Homo sapiens: one gene and its partners. The protein of the gene in region 3 interacts with the protein of the main gene of each other region in a pairwise test. Each region holds a gene or a part of one and is shown on either strand. Other genes may lie near its edges.

Region 1 (7,574 bases), on a different chromosome or scaffold from region 3:
GGACCTTTTTCTGTCCTCAGGCCCCAGCTGGAGGCCTTCTCCCCAGGCTCACTATGGGGTGGGGGCTTTTCCTGGCTGCAGGATGAGCTGACAGTGGAGGGGACCAGGGCCAATTTGACAGGCTGGGATCCCCAAAAGGACCTGATCGTACGTGTGTGCGTCTCCAATGCAGTTGGCTGTGGACCCTGGAGTCAGCCACTGGTGGTCTCTTCTCATGACCGTGCAGGTGAGGCTTGTAGGTGGAGAGGGGCAGAGGCTCAGGGGATCAAGGTTTTCAAGGGCAACCTAGACTGATGGGAGGAGCCTAGTAGCATCTCCCCTCCTAGTAGACCCACAGACAGAGTGAAGAAGTTGAGGCCAGGGCTGTTTAAACTATCTTGGCTGGGCATGGTGGCTCATGCCTGTAATCCCAACATTTTGGGAGGTTGAGGGATCGCTTGAGGCCGGCAGTTTGAGACCAGCTCTGGCAACATAGCAAGACTCTGTCTCTACAAAAAAATTAAAAAAAAAAAAAAAAAACAATTAGCCTGGTGTAGTGACATATGCCTGTTAAGCCCAGCTGCTCCAGAGGCTGAGGCAGGAGGATTGCTTGAGCCCAGGTGTTTGAGGCTGCAGTGAGCTATGATTGCACCACTGCACTCCAGCCTGGGCAACAGAGTGAGTCTGTTGTCTCTAAAGAAACAAACAAATAAGGCCAGGAGTGGTGGTTCACACCTATAATCCCACAACTTTGGGAGGCTGAGGTGGAAGGATTGCTTGAGTCTAGGAGTTTGAGACCACCTTGGGCAGCAAAGTGAGACTTTACCAAAAAAATTTAAAAATTAGTCAGGTGTGATGTTGCACACCTGTAGTCCCAGCTACTTGGGAGGCTGAAGTGGAAGGATTGCTTGAGCCCAGGAGGTTGAGGCTGCAGTGAGCTGCAACTGTGCCCCTGCACTCTGGCCTGGGCAACAGAACAAGACTGTGTCTCAAACAAACTATATCTCATTCTCCTCTCTCTGCCCCAGAACTGGCATAGAAATCCATGGTCACCCTCTAGGTCACAACAGCCAGGGCCTGTCTCTGACCAGGTAGGAAGGACTCTTAGGCATTCCTCTGGAGCCCCTTTCCCTCAGGACCCTTATTGACCTAGAGGAGCCCCTTGAACCAGCTGGATGGCCATCCTGGGAAAGTTCTGAAGGGACCTCATGGTGTCATCCTAGCTCATGCCACTGCACCTCCCTCCCACAGGCCAGCAGGGCCCTCCTCACAGCCGCACATCCTGGGTACCTGTGGTCCTTGGTGTGCTAACGGCCCTGGTGACGGCTGCTGCCCTGGCCCTCATCCTGCTTCGAAAGAGACGGAAAGAGACGCGGTTTGGGTAAGGGGATGGGGATGTGGAGGGAGAGGCAGGTAATGATGAAAGACCTTGGAGCTGACCCCAAATCCTGGGTTTTCCTTTAGGCAAGCCTTTGACAGTGTCATGGCCCGGGGAGAGCCAGCCGTTCACTTCCGGGCAGCCCGGTCCTTCAATCGAGAAAGGCCCGAGCGCATCGAGGCCACATGTGAGTGGTGGGTGATCGTGGGAAGGACAAATGGGCTGTCTTGTGCCCCATCTGCATTCTTTTACCAAATTATTAATTTGACTGATATGTCTGAACATCAGTGAGCCCCAGGCACACAAATCTGCCTGTGTGGAGTTCACCACCCCAGCCGTGGGAGACCTAAGCTCATCTCTATGCTCTGAGGGCAGAGTCTGGGGTATAAGAGGCTGGGTTTTGGCTCAGGAATCAGAGATCCCTCTTTCCCACAAACCCTTTCCCCACAGTGGACAGCTTGGGCATCAGCGATGAACTAAAGGAAAAACTGGAGGATGTGCTCATCCCAGAGCAGCAGTTCACCCTGGGCCGGATGTTGGGCAAAGGTATGTGAGGCTGTGTGGGGATGGGCATGGCTGGTTTGCTGTAGCTGGAAGTGTTTGGTTGCCCCTGTCACTTTGAGGCTGTGGGTTTGGGTCGGTTGCCGTAAACAAGATATGCTTGTAGACTCCTGAGTGTGGGATGTTTGTGGGGAATGGTGGCTGGAGACAGGGAGGGCTGAGGAGCTGCTCCCAGCATGCTCTTGCTTTGGCTACTGGCAAGGGTGCCTTCTCCACTGGCCCCAGAGTCTGCTGACTGTGTTCCCATGGAGGGTCACTTGGGAGGAAGGTTGGCAGGGAGCAGAGAGCCAAGGAGACTCTCCCTTACTTGGATTGGTTCCTAGGAGAGTTTGGTTCAGTGCGGGAGGCCCAGCTGAAGCAAGAGGATGGCTCCTTTGTGAAAGTGGCTGTGAAGATGCTGAAAGGTGAGTGGGGGATAGCTGTAGCCTGAGGGCATCACTTGGAAGGGTAAGAGGGGCGACTGACCCTGAAGCAGGCTCTGCTTTGCCCCTAGATTTTCCAAGAAGAGCTGGGCAGCACTAACTGGGATGCTCTTTACCACACGAATAATTCACAAGCATAAACCCAAACATACATATTCATGCCCAGCCATTGCTCTCTGCCATCGGCAGTGACTGTCCTCTGAGTCCCCTCTTGGGTGATTACAGCTGTGGTTGGTTGACCTGCTGGGCTGCCCAAACCAAAGGGAAGGGAAGGCATTAGCAAGTGGAGAAGTTGCTAAGTATCACCACTCCTTGGGGGTTTCTCCTGCTCATGGCTGGGCTGTTTCCTGGGCTCCCTGGGAAGCCTAGGACATCTGAAGGACAAGACCTAGGAGGCCTGGGTCAAAACTAGGGGCACATCTTGTTTTATTTCCTCCTTCCCCATCCCCTTCTCCTAGCTGACATCATTGCCTCAAGCGACATTGAAGAGTTCCTCAGGGAAGCAGCTTGCATGAAGGAGTTTGACCATCCACACGTGGCCAAACTTGTTGGTGAGCCCATTTTTGGGGGAGGCAGATAGAGAATAGGGCTAAAAATATGCTCTACCAATATGAGATGGCAGCCTATAGGAGAGACTTTTGGACTCATCTGGTAAATAAATAGATGGCAAAATAGCAAGGAGGGTCCTGGCAGAAATCTGAGGTGAGGAGTGCCAAAGGTCTGCACATGAAGACTGTGTGGCTGGATGTGGTGGCTCATGCCTATAACCTCAGCACTTTGGGAGGCTGAGGTGGGAGAATTGCTTGAGGCCAGGGGTTTGAGACTAGCCTGGGCAGTATAGCAACAGCCCACCTCTATTTAAAAAAAAAAAACAAAACAAAAAACATACACACACACACACGTATACAAAAATTAGCTAGGTGTGGTGGTGTGCACCTTTGTCCAGCTACCCGGGAGGCTGAGGTGGGAGGATCATTTGAGCCCAGAACATTGAGGCTGCAGTGAGCTGTGATTGCGCCACTGCACTCCAGCCTAGATGACAGAGCAAGATACTGTTTCAGAAAAAACAAAGACTGCTTGTGTGGACAGAGAAGGAAAGGAAGGGGACAGAAGATGCTCCAGGGATATGGGAGCAGCCAGAGTCCCTCCTGGGTAGTCCCCAGACCAGTGTGGAGCCTGTGAAAAAATAAAAAATAAATAGCAGAGCCAGAGCTAGAGATGGGACCCAGCAGGTGGGGACTTATGCAGACACCTGAACTGCCCCTTGACCCTTCTATGCTCAGCTCCTGACTCTCCCTTGTCCCAGGGGTAAGCCTCCGGAGCAGGGCTAAAGGCCGTCTCCCCATCCCCATGGTCATCTTGCCCTTCATGAAGCATGGGGACCTGCATGCCTTCCTGCTCGCCTCCCGGATTGGGGAGAACCCCTTTGTGAGTACCTGGTGTGGGGGTGGCCAGGAGGAAACGGGTGGGAACACAGGGCCTGGAAAGGCATAGAGACCCTGGCAGAGAGGGGCTTGCTGGGTAGGGCTGATGGAGCTGGGTGGGAGTAGGAGGGGTCTGAGTTTGAATCCTTTTAATCTAGCAGGCTTTCTTTTCTCTCACAAAACCCTGCTGAGAAATATAGGCTGGGCAAGGGCCCTTTCTAGAGGGAGGGACTTGTGGAGCCCCAGGGTGGGGGAGTCTCGTCTTCCAGGCTCCCTCTTAGGCTAGCCGAAGCTTCCTTGCCTTGGGAAGGCCCTCCATCCCCTTCCTTCCTTCCAGTGATTCTGGGGACAGCCTTCAGGCTTTCTGGCCAGGGACCCCCATCCATCCTGCCCCAGCTGGGTGGGCAGGTTAAGCCTGAGCTTGGCCTGTCTGTCCACTAGAACCTACCCCTCCAGACCCTGATCCGGTTCATGGTGGACATTGCCTGCGGCATGGAGTACCTGAGCTCTCGGAACTTCATCCACCGAGACCTGGCTGCTCGGAATTGCATGTACGAATTCTGGAGGACTCGAGGGTGGGAGACAGCAGCAGGTGCCAAGAGGAGCTAGCTGATGGTCGGCTCCTGCCTGGGACAGTATCTGCTATGCATGGGGGTAGCTTGGGAGCAAAGATGCAAAGATGTCCTGGCTCTTGTGGGCCTGTGAGCATGGCAGAAGGCTGACTCTCTCCCTCAATGCCCCTTGTAGGCTGGCAGAGGACATGACAGTGTGTGTGGCTGACTTCGGACTCTCCCGGAAGATCTACAGTGGGGACTACTATCGTCAAGGCTGTGCCTCCAAACTGCCTGTCAAGTGGCTGGCCCTGGAGAGCCTGGCCGACAACCTGTATACTGTGCAGAGTGACGTGGTGAGCAGGGTGGCCCGTGAAGCTTGGTGGGGACGAGTGTGAGAGCAGACCTTTAGGATCCTTAAGGGCCTAGCCAAGTCTGCTCTCTGGGGTTTGGTTGCCCCCTGATGAGGCCCTGAGCCCCAGGTTGTGCTTGTCTCAGAGCCATGGCTCTCTGCCTGGCTCAGGACACCTAGTGACAGCTTCTCCCCCAACCTCGATTCTGTCCCAGTGGGCGTTCGGGGTGACCATGTGGGAGATCATGACACGTGGGCAGACGCCATATGCTGGCATCGAAAACGCTGAGATTTACAACTACCTCATTGGCGGGAACCGCCTGAAACAGCCTCCGGAGTGTATGGAGGACGTGTGAGTATCCTGGGAAGGGGGCTCTGGAAGGAAAGGGGAATCTGGAGTTTTGGCTGATGGCTGCCACCACAGTTGCCTCAACTGGACCTTTGTTTTTTGATAGAAACATCCTTGTAGTTGGAAGGCTGCACTCCACCTCATACTCACTGTTCATCTACCACCTCCCTGTTTTCTTTCTTTCCCCCTTTCCCATCCCAGATTTCTTGCTTTAGCCTTTGTCTATCAGTCTCTTTTCTCCAGTTTGTAAGGAGAACCAGGAACCCCAAGAGCAGAAGGCACAGTGCTGAGTAACAGTGTGGGAGGTTTCCCTGCCATCTTCCCACCCGTCATTCCTTTTCTTTTTTTAATTTGTATTTATTTTATTTTATTTGTTCTACCCTAGTGAATACAACCTTTGTCCTGGAGACCCCAGCTAGTCTAAGAAAACTTCCTAGGCTGAGCTCTCTTGGGAATCTAAGATAAAGAACTGAGATCCTGGGAAGAAGGGAACTGCCTCCTCTTCTTTCTGCAAGCCCAAAGCCCTCGGGACTGGGCAGGCAATGATACCACCCACTTTGCTACAGTGATAACAGACCCTGTGACAAGATAATGGGAAGTGTCACTGACATTAGCTGGGCATTTAGGCATTCTTTCAGGTAATCTTCCTCTGACCTTATGAGGAAAAGACTATTATTTATCCCCACTTTGTAGATGAGAAAATAGGATTAGAGAGATTAAGTAACATGGCCAACGTCACAGAGCTAGTAAGTGAATAAGTTGGAATTTGAACCTAGATCCCTGTAGTTTTAGAATATATACTCTTAACTCTTTATGACAACAACTGTGATTTGTCTGTTCTAGTCTTACACTCCCACTCCATCCAAGCCAAGGGCTCCCTAGGCCTTCAGACAACCTTTTGTGAGTATTTTTTGTTTTGTTTTTTGAGACAGGGTCTCGCTTTGTCACCCAGGCTGGAGTGCAGTGGCGTGATCTCTGCTTACTGCAGCCTCAACCTCCTGGGCTCAAGTGATCCTCCCTCCCCAGCCTTCCAAGTAGCTGGGACTACAGGCACGTGCCACCACACTCGGCTAATTTTTGTATTTTTGTAGAGACAGGGCTCCGCCATATTTGTCAAGCTGGTCTTGCGCTCCTGGGCTCAAGGGATCCATCTGCCTTGGCCTCCCAAAATGCTGGGATTACAGGTGTGAGCCACCACGCCCAGCCCAGAGGACCTTTCATGAGCCCCAGGGGGAGTGGGAGCCACTGTGACCAGAGAAAGAATCTGCTCCATTTCTTGCTCTGGGATTGGACTTCCAGAGGGCCGAGGTCATGGACAGGCACAGGAAGGCTCAGCCTGATGGTGGGGTCCTTCCCTTGGACAGTGGGTTTGAAGTGCCCTGAGCCTGGGCTGTGGGTAACTCACCTACACCTGAGAGGGAAATCTTGAGTAGACAAGCCAGGCCCTGGCCCTCCTGTTCATTCAGCAGAGCTCAGGGCATGGCAAGGGGCAGGAAGCTCACATCTCCCTGTGGCTGCAGCCTGCTTCAGTTCTAATCTGGCGCTGTAGAAGCTCTGAAGGGCAGTGGGGACCAGACCCCAGCGCAGCCTCCTCCCCAGCTGGAGCTGGTGCTGTCAATGGAGAGTGGGCAGGCACTGGCCTCACCCAGGCAGCCTGGTGGACAGGCGCCAGTTGGCTCCTAGCACAGCCTTGAGGACGTGTCCCAGTCTGGCCATGTACCCACGGCCCCAGACCATTCCCATTCCCACGACCTGTTCAGTGTCTGGCATGATTACTGCCATTACTGGTGGCCCCTGCTGGGGGTGTGCTGGTGTGTGAGGCAGTGCTTGGGGCTCTTGTCATGGGCATAGGCAAGAGAGTCAGGCATTTGCATTCATTGGACTTGGTCTCAGCGTCTTTCCATTAGGTTTTTGGTTTGTTATTTTTCCACCTGAGCCTGAGGCATTCCTTGGGCATCCTGAGTGATAGGCTTCAGGGAATTTATAAGGTTCCTGAAATTGTATGTAAAAAAGCATTCCTGGCAGGGGACGGTGGCTCACGCCCGTAATCCCAGCGCTTTGGGAGGCGGATCTCCTGAGGTCGGGAGTTCCAGACCAGCCTGACCAACATAGAGAAACCCCGCCTCTATTAAAAATACAAAATTAGCTGGGCGTGGTGGCGCATGCCTGTAATGCCAGCTACTTGGGAAGCTGAGGCAGGAGAATCACTTGAACCCGGGAGGCAGAGGTTCTGGTGACCCGAGATCACACCATTGCACTCCAGCCTGGGCAACAAGAGCAAAACTCCATCTCAAAAAAAAAAAAAAAAAAAAATTAATTCCTGTTGGCAGGAGAGCTGGAAGCTTTTTCCAGATACTCAAAAGTTATATATGAATAGTGAGGACTTTTTCTTTTTTTTGAAATGGAGTTTTGCTCTTGTCGCCCAGGCTGGAGTGCAATGGCACAATCTTGGCTCACCACAACTTCCACCTCCTGGATTCAAGCGATTCTCGTGCCTCAGTCTCCTGAGTAGCTGGGATTACAGGCATGCACCACCCTGCCCAGCTAATTTTGTATTT
Region 2 (7,679 bases), on a different chromosome or scaffold from region 3:
GCAAACAAAAGGGCACAGCGATGAGAAGGCTGGCGCTGGAAGCAAGGGGACGAAGCGGACGGCGTTAGCGGCTGATGGGACGAGCGGAGGCAGGTCCCCTGCACCCAGAGGGCGGTGTCTTCGAGGGTGGGCGGCTTGGAGGCTCCTGGCCACCCAGCGGCCTAGCGGGGGCACATTCCTGAGGGCGCCGAGCGCAGCTCCGGGACCAGCGTCTCAGCCCACAGCCTCAGCGAAACTTTGTAGCTGAAAGCGCAGCTCAGCAGGCCTCAGGGAAGGAACTGGGTGCCCAAACTCCGGCCTATAGCGCCCCCTTTGCCCGGGGTGGGCGCAGCTCGAAGAGTGGGAACAGGGACCGAAAAACCCCAAATCAAACCAAACCAAAAACCTCCGAGGTGCGCGGGGCCACGAGGGTCATCTCCTGGCGCCCCTGAGCCCGGGGCTTGCCTGCAGGAAGAGAGAAAGGGACTCGGGGCTCCCAGGTCCAGGAAACCCTCGACGACCAGGAAATGGGGGATTCCCTTGCCACCCCCAGCCCCAGCTGGAGCTGCTCGGACGGAAAGCTTGCGCTCGATGTAGCGCGGGTAGAAGCGGATCTTCCCACGGCTGTAGCACGTGCTTCCCGTCTCCCCGCATCTTCAATGGGGGTCTCCAGCAATCCCCCACCCGCCCCTTCAGTGGGTGCCCGCATTCCCGTCCCGCATTCCCTGAGGGCCTTTCAAGCGGAGTCGTTCTCTGAGAGGAGGCCTCAGAACTCGGGTGGGCGGGGACCGCCTCTCCCCAACGAAGGAGTTCCCCTCGAGCGCCCAGCGTTCGCGGGAGGGACCCACACAGCCTTTCCTCCAGCCCAGCCCAGCGCCCCGCCGCTCTCTCCACCCCACAAGCGGCCGGTTACCTAGGCAAAGCCTCAGTGCCTGGAAACACGTTCCGCCGCTCCTGCTTGCGGCCGCCGGGGCCGGGAGCACAGAGCCTTGGGGTTGTAAATTAGGAAGAAATAACTACCTCTGTCAAAGCCCCTTTCTTTCTCGTGGGCAGACGAAAGGAACACCCCCGTGTTCCCCTCCCGGTGGTGAAGTGTGTGGAGGAAACCGTGAAACGCACCATTGTGACCGGGGCTCCTCTGCGGAGTTTCCAACCCTGGGGAGCGGGGGCGGAGGTTGGGCGGGGGCAAGAGGAGCGAGGGAGAGACTGACAGAAAGGGAAAGACTGAGATTCTCAGAAAGACCGAGGGAGACTAGACAAACCGCGGGGAAGAATTTCTGTGAGCGCACGGTCCCAGGCAAAGGGGTGGATGGGTGCCGGGGGGTGGGGGGCGGAGCGGACGTGGAGGTTGCTGTGGCCTAAGGAGGCTTTGATACTAACTCTGCGAGCATCTTGTTCAGCGAAAATAACTCGAATAAAGTAACTTCATTCATTGTGCCCATCAGCCACGTTAGGCAGCTTTTTCTTTCCCTAACTTGATTCTATAAAATATTTCCCGGTCGTGGGAAAAGGAGATCCGGCACTGGACTCGCGATGGAATGACGGCTCCCTGTTCTTCTCTCCCAGCACCACAAGGCCCTGGGATCACAGCCCGACATTTCTGATTACTAACTCCTCGCAGCTCTTCCCTCTGGAGAATCCGGACGCATAAATAAATAAAAGGCAATCTCCAAGAACGTTTTTGGAAATCAAGGGACAAATGCGTTCTTCCTCACCACTGCCCCGAGGCTTCCAACAGGTTGGAGAGGTGCCTTTGGAAGTCAGTCTCCGCAGGCTGCGCTCGCATGACCGCTCTCGTCTCACCACCGAGAACTTTCATTTCTACTAAGAGTAAAACACTCGGAGCAACTTCTCCAAAAGCGCGAGTTCTGTCCGTGAAAAAGCATGCCTTTCCCACACCGAGCCAACGTCCAGAGGAGAGGGACACCGTCCCCACACGTGTCAGTGTGCGGGAGTCGCCAATTACACCCGATTTACCTCCTAAGGGAAAAGTGTAAACCGGCATGTCAGCGACGACAGGCAGACGTGCCTAGTGGAACCCCAGGCTCATTTCAATACAATAAGCCACATTCCTACAATTACGCCCTCTTTCCTGAGGTCCTCCGAGTGCGTCTGCAAACTCTGGCCGTCGCTGCCTAGGCCCTTCCCTCCTAAGCTTCCTTCCAGAGAACCAGCTCGGTGCCACCATTAGCAACATTTACTTGGACCCACCAGAGCTCCTATTTTCAATCCTACTTAAAAGGCAGGAAAATTACTGCCGTTCATCACCGGAGCTGCAACTCCCTGCCGCTGCCGCTGCCGCCGCCGCCGCCGCCGCCGAGAGCATCATTACCATGACAACTAGAGCCGAAATACCCTGAATTACATCGCTGGAGCCGCTATAGCACAAATCCCGGTCCTCCTCTTTGTTAGAGGCTTTTCGCCTCTTCGAGTGGGGGGAGGAATCCCACGAGCTCCAGAGATCCCCGCGGGCCCACTACAGGGGAAAAGTTTCAGATCAGAACCTACGGGCCGCTGGGCTAGCAAAGCCGGAGCCGGGCGGCAAGGTCAGGGGAGGGAACCCCACACTCAAAGTTGTCAATTTCAGGAGCGACGCTTCCCAGCAAGCCAACTTTTTTAGCAAGTCCCCTTATTAACTGGGCGAATCTCATACGTACTTGAGTGCTGTGGCGGTTCCGTCTTTAGAGCGAGTTTCTAGAGAGCTGTCCCGAAATCTGCACTGGGGGGGAGTCACAGCTGCTGTCCCGGAAGGGCTGCGGTGTACAAGCCCAGCGGCTCCCGGAGGCGGTGAGCGGCTGGTGGGGGATGCTGCGATCCCGACTCATGGGAGAGCACAGCCGAGAGGTTCCGCGGGCGTCCTGGCTTGGGCTGTGACCAGGGGGGAGGATGCCGCCGCTGTTCCCACCTCCACGGCCACTGCCGGCACCGTCAGCGTTGCAAAGTGAGCCCGGGAGGGGCGTCCAGCTGCGGCGCCGCGCTGCACCGGCAAGGGCTCAGGGCAAGAGGGGTGTGAGCGCGCGGGAGAGCGAAGTGTGTGTGCGGAGCCTGTGTGCGCGCTTGTGTCTGTGTGTGCGAGTGAGGGAGCGGGTGTGAGCGCGTCTGTGTATGGGGAGCGGAGGAGGAGCAGGAGCTGGAGGGGTGGGGGGCGGGAGGCAGGAGACTCCGCTCTCCCGGCTGCGCGTTCGCTCGCTCTCTCGGCACGTCATTTATGCCACAGGAGCCCTAGCGGCCTCTCCATAGAGTGCCTGGAATGCGAGACGTCAATGTGACGCCATGGGACGCTACGTCACCCTCCTCCTCCCTCCCCTGGCCCAGCCGGTTCCGCGTGTGCGAGGGAGGGTGTGTGTGTTCGTGTGCGCGCGCGCGCGCGCGCGTTCCTCGGCCAGTCGCACGGCCGCACAATGGAAACTCCGCCGCACGGCCGGCCCCGGCCTGGGGGCTTCTCTTTTTGCAGCGGAACCGCTCGCCAGGGCGTGCGTCTGCGGGAGGGTGCAGCGGCCTGCCCACGGGTCAGGCGGGACCGCCCAGCTGTCAGGCTCGGGTGGAGTAGAGTTGGAGGAGTGCTGCTGGCGCGCCTCCGAGGCTGCCCCGAGGCACGGAGCCAGGGCGAGGGGGGTAAGGGAGAGGACAGCTCTTCCGAAAGGGAAGGCTCCGCCAGCCAGCTTCTGACCAGCTCCAGTGACCTGGCAGCCGGTGCAGAAGGCGTCTGGCACCAGCCCGAAGACGCCCTGAGGTGCAGCTGCACTTTCCTCTTGCATAGGTTCTAAAGCTGTTTACGTTGCTCCGGTCCTCTGCGCCCAGGCTAATCCCCCCTCCCCGCATCATTTACTGGGTGCGTGTTTCACACAGGGATGCAGATGGTTCCGGGGATAAGGTTTGATTTCTTTACACGTACGGCGTGGGTTTCTTAACTGGACACGTTATAACCCAGCGAAGTGCACATCCATCATGCACACGCGCGCTGCAGCAGAAACTACTCTGTGTGTAAAACAAACACACACGTGTTGAACAGCTGAGCGGGTCTGACTATTGCAAATCATTCCTCCTCCCCGGCACCGGGTCAGAAATGGAACTCTCAACTAGCACTTTCACTTTTTGATGGTTGTAGATGCCCTCCGCCCACATCTCCCAAATTAAACATTTCGAAATCAATCAACAGGACTTATTAGTCAGTCCCTCGCTAGGGGATTTGCTTTGGTCTCCTCGGACACATTTGTCATGAAATGGTGTGCCGAAAGCCTGGGTGACTGTATGAAGGAGAGCAATTTCTTCCTGGAAATGATAAATTTAAGTGTAAATTTCTTGATGAAAACAAAATTTATCAGAGTTAAAGACCCCTAGTCCCAAAGGTTGCTGCTGAGTGAACGCAGTCTCTTTCAGAAATGAATTTTTGGACAGGAGAAAATATTTGAGTGAAACAATGCAGATAGAGTGGTCCCCATGTGGTCCGCTTGAATCACAAATACCGTTTTATATGTTTGACCTGTCCCAATTTGTGTGTGTGTGGCGGGGGCGGGGGGCGCTGCGCCGAGGGGAGATACAAGATTCCTTTGTAGACAGCACACATTTCAGAATCGAAGAAGGTTCGAGCTAGGACCAGAAACTTGAAAACAAACTACATATAGGTAAATATGGCATGTATATCTTTCTTCGCCTCCACTTCCAATTCAGACACGGTGGTGCGGAGAGGATCGTGGGAGAATGCCCCGAAAGTTGACCCAGCCGAGAGCAACCGAGTCTCTGCACTGCGGCGGGTTCCAATCCAGCCTCGGAAGGAAGGAGGGCGCTGCTACATTGTATCCATTCAAAGGCTTGAAGGGGGGGAGCAGGACCTGGAGCCGCGCGGCGCTGACGCACGCGAGGCGCGTGATTGACGCAGGCGATGTTACTAAATTCGGCGGTTGGCCGGGACCCGCCGCCGGCGCGCGCCGCAGATAGCGGAGTAGGTTCCCCTCGGTCACCCCCGCCCCTTCTCCATTCAACGCCGCGCGGGGCGGGGCAGGGCGCGCGGGGCGGGGCGGGGCGGGGCGGGGAGCGCGCGGCCGCGCCAGGATCCGGCCGAACCAAATATAGTCGGGCCTGGCTATTTTTAGCCGGGTCTCGGGCGCGAGCCCGCCGCGTGAGGGGGCGCCCTGACCCCGCCGGGAGTGCGGAGGGGGCGGGGGCGGAGTCGCCATCTTGGACTCGGTTCGACCAGGTCTGGTGACCGGCGACGAGGGGCCGGGCTCGGCGCCGGGGGTCGGGGTGAGTGGGTGCGAGCCGTGGGAGAGAGGGGGGGCGCTGGCGGCTCTCTTCGTCCGGCGCGGGCTGTGAGAAGTGAGCAGGGCGAGGCGCGGGCGACAGCGGGGCGCGAGGCCCGTGCATGTGTGTGCGCACGGAGGTGGGGAGACGGTGATCCCCGCCCGCCCTGCGGAAGGCCCGGCGGTTCTACCACCCGGCAGCTCGGCCAGCCCCGAGTCGCGTGGGGGCGGAGCTGCCCGCGGCCACCACTTCCTGAGTGCCGGGGATACCCTTCCCGGACGTCACGGAGGAGCCGAGGCGGCGGTGGCGGCCCGGGGCTCATCCTGCACTTGCATCACGGGTGCAGCAGCAGCTGCTCTGCTCCTTTGTGGCTTTTTGCCCCGTTGAGTAACTGCTTTGTTAACTGAAAATACCATGACGGGCCAGTGTGATCACCAGCTCCAGATCTCAAAGAAAGTGAAGCTGTCAGGCAAGAAGAGGGAGACTCCCCCAGCCGGCTGCGATGGTATCTGGTGGGTGGATGTGTAGAGAAGCACTTGACAGTTTCCACGTATTACTTCTTGCCTAACTCTTCACCCCCAAGAAGATTTAAAAATACTTTTATTTCCATGCTGTAAAAATTTCATTTGTGTTCTGCACCTCCCTCACCCCCCTAATCCTCCTTCAATTAAAACTCTCATGTAGAACTGGAATCACTGTAAGCAGGAACCCTAAAATTAGGTACAGTTTTTAGGAAACATGACATCTTTCAATGAATTTATTCAATAAACTACATTTTCTAAATGTTAATATGTATGAAAGGTCCTTGCCCACTCAGGGTTGTTATAAAGCTGCTAAATTGTTCATATGAGTTGGGCTCCAGTGACCGTTTCAAAGCAGTATCCTTGTTTACCTAAATTTAAAACAAAACAAAACAAAAAAACTCTTCTCCCTGGCTGAGAACCTCCAAGCAAAGTTTCCTCTCTTTGAGTGGGTGTGTCTTCTGGACCTCTATCTTGGTTACTTCTGTGCATCCTCCTCCCTTCTCCCCTCCACCTTCCTTTACATCCTTTTCTGTTTTTTACAGCCTCACTCCTTTACATCCGTTCCTTCCTTTACATCCTTACTCCTTTACATCCTTTTCTTCCTATCAAGTGGCCAATATCTGTTCCTGGACTGCTCTGTTAGACTGAGGGCTGTTGTCTGACCTCCCTGAGCCAATCAACTGTTCGTGGCTCAGTGCTTCTCGGGGTAGGAAGGGGGACTGACTGCTGGAGAGGTCACTGAGTGGCAGCCTTTTGAAACTCAAATGGAAATTCATGGAAGCAGAGACACAGCTGTCTCGTAGACGGAGACACCATCCTCTGCTTAATCCTATGTCCCTAAACGTATGCTGTTCTTTAGGTGACCCAAACAGAATTAGTTTTTCTCGAGTCTTTTTTTTTTTTTTGAATTAGTATCTACTGCTCTATTCCTTTTCAAAAGTCGGATTTATTAGAAACCAGGCATAATATTCTGTAAGGCACATGTAATGTGACTATTTCAGTAATCTCAATTTCCTTTTTAAAAAATTTTATTAACTTTTTTATCTCTTCTTTTAGGAAATCAAATAAGACTACCTTAATCTGTGAAACGTTGAAAACTTTCTTGGCTCAGTCCTTTTTCTATAACAGAAGAGAGACATTTATATGTCACTAGTTTACATACACGAAGTTAAGTTTCTGCTTTCATGATGCTTATAGCAGCCAGCCTGTTAAAGAAGTATCTAAATTAACCATTACGGATTCACTGGATAGTTACCTTTCATTTTGTTTTGGATTTGTAGGCCTAATCTGCCTGCAAGAAAGAACTATTTCTCTTAGAAAATAAAATATGAAATTTGGGGGAAACTTATGTGTGATATAAAGCAATTGTTTTAAATTGCTTTAAATGCTCTTCTGATGAAGTAAAGACGTATAATCTTATTGCTTTTACTAATATATAGAGATGATGATTTCTTATTAATGCAAATATTGGGTGAGGAATGGTGAAATAAAAATTCTAAGCCAGAAGTTGTTACCTAGGGTGAAAACAGGAAAGAAAAGTAAAAAATTGTAAGTTCAAGTTTTGTGGAATCAATGTAGAAGTTCTATACTATATTTAAGGTACATATATAAAATTTAGTAACTTCAGCTGACATTGATTTATACACGAGATGTACCTGGCTCAGTAACCTGCAATCATTATAGTAAGTTTCTATCTGACCTACATGCTTGCCATTCGTTATCAATTCCATCATTGCCAGATTAGTCTTCCTAAAATTTAGATTTTGTTATATAACTTCTGGCCTCAAAAGTCTTCAGCAGCTGGATATTTTCTCCAAAATCAAACCTAGAGCCTCTTTTATTTCCACAGAATTTTCCTGTCCTAGTCAAACTGGTGTTCTCACTGTTCTTCAAACTTCCTTTCAACCTCCCACATTTGTTGATAGTTTTCCTTTT
Region 3 (7,574 bases):
TTCTTTAATTATGGGCATAAATAAGTAGGAAATCCTTTATAGTAGCTCCTTCCTAAATATAATTTATATTCAACTGTTGGTTTATTCCCTTTCCTTTAGAATTAGATTTTTTTCTCACTAATCTCTTGAGTTGACACAGATAATTATAACATATGTTCCATCACTGACTAGTCCAGTTTAAAGAATAATAGAAAATGTGAGTTCAAATATTCTTGAGCTATTTGTAAGTTACTCCTTGGATCACATTTTGGGGCTCAGTAAAACCATTTCTTTGCAATTTAGATAAAGCCAGACCTATGAAATTCAGAAGGAAAATTCAAGCTGAAGGTTCCTATATAAAATAATCCAAAAGGACAAATTTTAATGCATATATTGCCAAGTATCAACTCTCCAAACCTCACAATAAGGCACAGATAGTTGCATGAACTTAGTCTATTTGAGGACTTAGTATCTTCAAATTGATCCCAAACAGTTTAAGAGCGTGGGCTTAAATGAATCTATCTTCACTTTATATATGTCAAATTATTCTTTTTAAATATTTATTTTCAGCCTACCCCTCTTGTATTCCCATGGAAGGAGCTGAGTATATTTAATATTAGGAGCACATCCAGAAGTCTTTGAAGAGGGGGATGGCTCTTCATATTCATGAAGCTTGCATACTTCTGTTGGTCATCCCTGGATTGGTCACCTCTGCTGCTATCAGTCATGAAGACTATCCTGCTGATGAAGGTGACCAGATCTCCAGTAATGACAATCTGATCTTTGATGACTATCGAGGGAAAGGGTGTGTCGATGACAGCGGCTTTGTATACAAGTTGGGAGAACGATTTTTCCCTGGGCATTCCAACTGTCCATGTGTCTGTGCTCTAGATGGACCTGTTTGCGACCAACCAGAATGCCCTAAAATTCACCCAAAGTGTACTAAAGTGGAACACAATGGATGCTGTCCTGAGTGCAAAGAAGTAAAAAACTTCTGTGAATATCACGGGAAAAATTACAAAATCTTGGAGGAATTTAAGGTATGCGTTACCCTCCATATTTATTGAAATATCAACTTTTCATACCACGTGCTTAGTACATTGCTACATTAAAGTCAGAGTTGGAAAAATGTACTTTAAAATTTCCCTTTAAATTATACAATTTGATTCTAATTACCATAAGTAGCACCATGGTCAACAAATGGCCAACTGGTTTGTTGATCATATTTGTTAAGTTGCACAATAACCTTTATTTTTTTTCCCAGAAGTATTTGGGGCATACCTAACACCTTTTATTTTTGCCCTTAAACATTTCTTCTCTGTTATTACAAAATATGTTTTCTGATGGGAACAATTTTGTGTATAGTGTATGTGTCTCCTAAATTAATTTTTTAATTGTGTCAGTTTTGTGTGTTGCTTATTAGCCTGTATTTGAAGTCATTTAACAATATAGTCTAGAATTATTTGTTTATTGTGTGGAAAAGCTACAGAGATATACTTCTTAGCTGTGGTCCTCATATTAAGAAAATGCATTGGGCCTACTTGTGGTCAAGCAAGATCCCCATTCTGTTCTCTGCTCGCTGGATTTTTTGCTTTCAGGATTCCACAGAGAACTGAATTTTTATCACAATCCATGTAAAGAGTAGTAAAAAAGACTGTAATTTTTTTCAGCCTACCTGGTATTTTTTAGTTTTTCTTTTACGCTTGCGTCATATTTTCAAAGTAGCTTAGAGTTCATTTTTATCCCTTATTGAACTTTCTTTTCCCCAATGGCTAGTTTTAATTGGGATATCCTACAAGCCTGATCTGAACCCTGAAGGTATGAATACATGAAAAATGTCCACCTTAAATGTAATGGCAGTTTGTGCCTGGAGTGTCTGTCATACTGATGGCTTTATATAAAATGTTCCCATTTCATCTAACCAAGTTCTGTGATGAGGTGCTCAGAACCTTAGAGGTAAAAGCAGATATAGCTAGTTTTCAGTGTGGGTGTTTATGTATGAGAGAAGACATTTCCATTATTAGCACTGACCCAACTTCTCTCACCACAAGGGTCAAATGGTGCCAGAAATCAGTATGTAGAAAAAAGGTCTCAACTGATCATCATTAGCATAATCTGTGTATTCATAGTTAATTGTATTTAGTTCATTATTAACCTGGAATGAACCAGGTTAGCGGTTCAAGCCAGTTCTGATTTACCCAAGAATACCCAGTCATTGGAACTAGATTCCTTAGGACAAAAGGGAAATTTTAATTGTGACATTCAACTTCCTTAGACATGTTATTCTCGACTTTTGTCTTTCGTGTATTATTTTATTGCACAAAATTAAGAAGTAAAAGCATGAGAGTCTAGTAAAAGTATCATTGTTGACACCAAATAATAGTTGAGAGTAGAGTACATTTATTAATGGTTTTATGATCTCTAAAATATTGTATATATTTTGACATTACCTATTTTTAATGTCATCTTAATGGAAGTAAGTAGAAGTACTCAACACACTTGATTCTAGCAGTCATATCACCCTTTTCTAACCTGCATTTATATCTAGACTAGAATACAAAAGGGTATTGTAGGAACAGCGTTTCATAACTAGCACAAATAAAAACATAAGTTTCTGAGATTTATATAATTTGGTAATCTGTATTTAATAAAGAAAATATTGTCTAACTTAACTCACTATTGAAAATGCTATAGTTTTCCCTCTATTTATTAGATTTTACTACAAAGATAATAACTATGTTACCATGTCAAACAATATAGAGGTATTTAAAGAAAAAGTTAATAATTTCTGTACCCCTTCTCGTTATAACCCTACTATAATCTAATTAATCCCTACTACTTCTTTCCTAATGTATGATCCATTAATATGCACAGCTTTTTCACCTGGCTTTTTGTGTCATAAAATTTTTGATGTGATTTTTAAAATAATAGATATCACTTTTTTTAACAAGAATTTAGAGTCATAAAGAGTTTTAGAGACTATATAGGGCAAATGTGTCAGAATGAGAAACTGAGACCAAAAAAGTATAAATTACTTATCCAAAATTGTCAAGTTATTTATCTTAATTCTAAATGCTGCCATTCTAACATACTATATGATCTCTCAAAGCAGTTTGTCACTAAGGTCAGATAGACTTGGATTCGAATCCCAAATTCATCACTTGGATATAAATTTTTGAATGGAGTTCTTAAACTTTTTGATCCATAGTGGTATTGACCATAAAATAGCCATTGTAATAATCACTTTCCTTAGGAGGAGAGGTTGGAAATTCTTAATAACATATAATTTCTCTGAAGTCACTAACCTTGTGATGACGGGTACACAATAGGTATTAAATAAATGATTGTCCCCTCCTTCTTAACTCTAATATCCAGGGATTTACTCTAAATTCTAAATTCCTCTATGGCTTTGCCTACATTTTATAATGAAAGTTCAACTTTAAAAGACTTTCAAATGAAGAATTCTCATACCTTTTTAAAATGCTCTACTTATCCCTATGAACCATACAACTCTAAGTAAATATTAGCCATAATCTGTCATCTTGATTCTCTTCCAACTCAGCTTGCAAGGAACAAGTCATTAATTATTAAAGATGCATAAAACTTTCATATAATAATGTTGATATGTCAATTAGGGAGGTTGTATTATGAGATAATCTTCACATAAATATATTCATCCAACAAGCATTTATCAGACCGTTCAGTAGATAAGATACTGTAGACGTACTTACAATTGAAAGTAGGATATCTAGAAACCAAAATCTCTGCTCACAAGAAAGACATGATCGATGTGAAGAGAGAAGGGGGAAAAAGCAGGTAAAAGTTAAGTATATGATTATGAAATCCCAATATAACTCCCAAGAGATTGTGATGGCAGAAGCTTATCAAAATAGTATGAGGCTTGGTTAAGCAAGAGATTTGTCTTCAGGATGCTAACCCTATACATCTTGTAGAGCTGCCTGTTCTTCAAGAAGTACTTGAAATTGATCTGGGAAGACTGAAATTCCAAAGACGAAACTGCCAGAGCAAAATCAGAGATTGGGATGAATACAGTCTGCAAAGAGGAGGGAGATGGGTATAATTGGAAGCTAGATATGACTAAAATGCTATCCTAGTAAGAGGCAAATTCAGATATGTGTCGGTGGAGAGTGGATGGAAGGGCCTTGAATACTGGGCCAAAATATTTAGATTCATCTGAAGAATAATAGGAAATAAAATGCGGATTGTTCTGTACATAGATGACCTAGTTAAACATAAATAAAAATGAATGTCCTATATCCAAGCACAGAATTGAATAGAAGTAAAGAGAAATTAATAGTGGAGGAAGGAAGTCTGTTGCAGAAAAAAAGAGAATGAGGTGCACAAGCACAAAGACATTCAGGACAGTTTTCAGGGTAAAATCTAATTTCCCTGCTGTAGCCTAGATTCTACTCATCAACCTCTCCAAATCCCTCAAACTCTTGGTGGCTTTTTTTCCCTGTGTGTTTGCACTGCTGTTCCACAGTATGGAACACTTTTTCAACATTGCTCCCTGTTTAAATCCTACTGGACCACTTCAAGGCTCCATTTAAATCTCACCTCAACTGGAAACCCCTCTCTGTCTGTCCTACCTCATATCTCCCACACTGTATCACTCCTTCCGTATGTTCCCACGGCCTGCTATACACACCATCACTACAAGAACAGTAACTGTTGTCTGATACTGTGAAGAGCTTTATGTATATTATAACACATTTTATTTTACAATAACACTGTGAGAATTATACTTTTATTAGCACTGTTTTACGGATAAGAAAACTGAAGCAGCAGAGTGTAAGTAACTTGTCCAAGACCATACAGCTGGAAAGAGGAAAAAGTAGGACTCCAAGCCAGGCAGCTTGACTGCAGAATCTAAGCTCCTCACCACTTCTAGTGATCTACCCCACAGCAATAATGTAATACATCACACTGCAATAATATTAAATCATGTAAAATATAATATGAAATAATATCATATGAAACCACTCGTCTCTTCCATTAGTCATTGAACCCTTCGAGGCTAGCGACACTGTTTTCTTTTTTCTTTTCCCCTCTATTCCCAACACCGTGTGAGCTATGTAACAGTCATTTAATACCTTTTTTGATGAATAGCATACCAGGTCAAATTGTAATCAAACCTATAGGATAAAGAAGTTAGAATTTCTTTAGAATGATTTAGTTTCTGTTTATGTGTTGATCTCTTCATTTTAATTAAAGAAGCACTGAAAGTTGAGACAAAAAATGCTCTTTGGGCAGTTAAAATGGCACACATTGTTCTCTTATGATAAGACTGCCTATTTTCGTCCTGCCTTTACTTTCTTCCTCTCTCAACCCCTTCCTCACCAAGGGTTGTCTTGGATTCTGTCTCCATCCCAGCATCGCAATGACTACCCAGTGTTTTAGCTGTACTGTCTCACCCTATGCAGTTGCAAATCATAGGTCACACTTCAATATTTTCTGATCACCAAATTCAAATGTAAATTGATCCACATGTGTCACCTGATAGGAAAACTGATGTCATTTATAAAGGTTGTGGGATTTTTGTGGGGTTTTTATTTCATTTACTGATGCAAGCTTTGAAAATGAATTTCTCTCTATTCTTTTTGAAAACTCTAAATTCTCCAGGGTTCTGGTAATATTGTATTAAGATAAAGGTCACTGTATAGTAGGTTCTCTCATCTTTCTTTTATGTGCACCCCGGCAATATGACACTGGAACCTACTTTTTGAGAAATAAAGCATATAAATAATACATTATAATAGCAGTTTCTACCAGAAAAAGTTTATTGGAAATGTAGGCTTAACTATCTTAATGCTGAGTTTCTCAAAGGAAGAAATAATTTCTTATTTTGCTCAGTATTTTTATAACTCTGATTCTGCTAGAATTAGCTTTTTTGACTATTTCCTTATACTTTAGAACTTGTACTGATTTAGTTGTAGGTCATACACTGAAGGTTATACTACATGTAGCTGAAAGAAACCTTTCAGCTTTTGCATAGCTTGTTTTATTTTAAAGTGATTTTCTGCAGCCAATTCCCAGTGTCCCTAATTCAGGATTTGGATTTGCCCAAGATCAGTGCCCTGCTGACACTGACCTTTGTGTTTTTCCCACTATGGGCCAAAGACAGTGGACCAGGTCTCTGAATTCTATATTCGAAAGGTGCGGTGTGAATATTTTTTCAAGTCAAATGTCTTATGGGTTTGTTGTTGCTTTTATAAAAATGAGCCTGTTTTCAGGATGCCAAGTTTTTGCCCTGAATTTTATACTTAATATTTAAATCTCAAGAGAATAAAAGGGGACCCGCCTGGCCAACATGGTGAAACCCTGCCTCTACTAAAAATACAAAAATTAGCTGGGTGTGGTGGCGGGCACCTCTAGTCCCAGCTACTCGGGAGGCTGAGGCAGGAGAATCGCTGGAACCTGGGAGGTGGAGGCTGCAGTGAGCAGAGATTGCGCCACTGCACTCCAGCCTGGGCAACAGAAGGAGACTCTGTTCCAAAAAAAGAAATAAGAAAATTAAGCCGTGGGATTATTTTGCCAAGTCATCACACTCATAAAAATTGTTGATGCCAATTTGGATTTAGAATTGATTTGCCCTTTAATGGGTATATTCACACAGAGACAAAAATTTCAACCTTCTCATTAATAGGTGCCACATTGTTAATGTCCAATATTGTAAAATTAAATCTGTAAAAACGTTTGAGTGGGAAGAATTTTGGAATTCAGGTTTGGGAGAGTCATTTGACGTCTAGTTGTTTTTTTAATATGGAGAAGAAAATGGAAGGCAACATGTTCTAGGAGCTGAGGACCAGACTTATGAAAGAACAGGGAAAACCAGAGGCTGTAGAGATATCTCAGTTGAGGGGACTAACAGGTAGGTAACACTTTGCACAGCACAATTCACTGCCCCTTGCCTACTTACCCACCTGCCATTGCACGAGTGTCTATGAAAAGCACAGGAACTAAGTCAGATGTTTACACAAGGCAAAGGAGTACAAAAAGCATATATATGAAGTATGAAGCCTGTATTTATTTTAATAACAGAGAAATCAGTGGATTATGAGAATAGAGGTGCAGTTTTTAAAGAGTTTTATACAAAAGAGGGTTTTCATTTCTCAACAAATGGGTAGTGGAGTCACCAGGGGCATTTTTAAGATACTATCCCAAGAAAGAACTAGAAAGCATCATGATTTTATGCGGCAAAGATAATTGGGGATCTTTGTAGAGAGGTTGAGAAGATTAATTCCATAATTATTGGCTCTGCAAAATGCAGTTTCTGTTTTGCAGAGCATGTTGTGGCTTTTAACATTAAAATGGCTTTGAGTGAGTTAAAAGGAATGCCTTCCCCTTTCAAGTTGCTACAAAATAACAGTGATTGAGACCTTACAATTGCTTATCTGAGGCTCAGCCTCAGCATGCAGAATGAGTGGGTTCAAAGTGGATATTCTCAATGGGGGATTCCCATCTTCGTAAGTAACTGGGGAACCTTTACGTAATTTTTATACTCTTTGAGTAATTTCATTCCAGAGATTAGAAGTCAATTTTATTAAAAAATTTATAATGTTCACTGCACACTT

What was found.
Region 1: the proteins of VWC2L (region 3) and TYRO3 interact in binary tests that used the Homo sapiens proteins (3 or more experiments, as listed by UniProt).
Region 2: the proteins of VWC2L (region 3) and NR4A3 interact in binary tests that used the Homo sapiens proteins (3 or more experiments, as listed by UniProt).

Annotation. Positions count from the first base shown.
Region 1 is NC_000015.10:41,568,797-41,576,370, forward strand, and holds part of TYRO3 (tyrosine-protein kinase receptor TYRO3 isoform 1 precursor), read left to right. Parts: intron 1-81; coding exon 82-226; intron 227-1,230; coding exon 1,231-1,360; intron 1,361-1,443; coding exon 1,444-1,544; intron 1,545-1,807; coding exon 1,808-1,903; intron 1,904-2,241; coding exon 2,242-2,322; intron 2,323-2,798; coding exon 2,799-2,891; intron 2,892-3,646; coding exon 3,647-3,768; intron 3,769-4,205; coding exon 4,206-4,315; intron 4,316-4,511; coding exon 4,512-4,671; intron 4,672-4,882; coding exon 4,883-5,019; intron 5,020-5,401; coding exon of another isoform or gene 5,402-5,435; exon of another isoform or gene 5,436-7,469; intron 7,470-7,574. UniProt on the Homo sapiens protein: Receptor tyrosine kinase that transduces signals from the extracellular matrix into the cytoplasm by binding to several ligands including TULP1 or GAS6. Regulates many physiological processes including cell survival, migration and differentiation.
Region 2 is NC_000009.12:99,817,365-99,825,043, reverse strand, and holds the start of NR4A3 (nuclear receptor subfamily 4 group A member 3), read right to left. Parts: upstream 3,160-7,679; 5' UTR 2,637-3,159; intron 1-2,636. UniProt on the Homo sapiens protein: Transcriptional activator that binds to regulatory elements in promoter regions in a cell- and response element (target)-specific manner.
Region 3 is NC_000002.12:214,413,565-214,421,138, forward strand, and holds part of VWC2L (von Willebrand factor C domain-containing protein 2-like isoform 1 precursor), read left to right. Parts: intron 1-549; 5' UTR 550-629; coding exon 630-1,019; intron 1,020-7,574.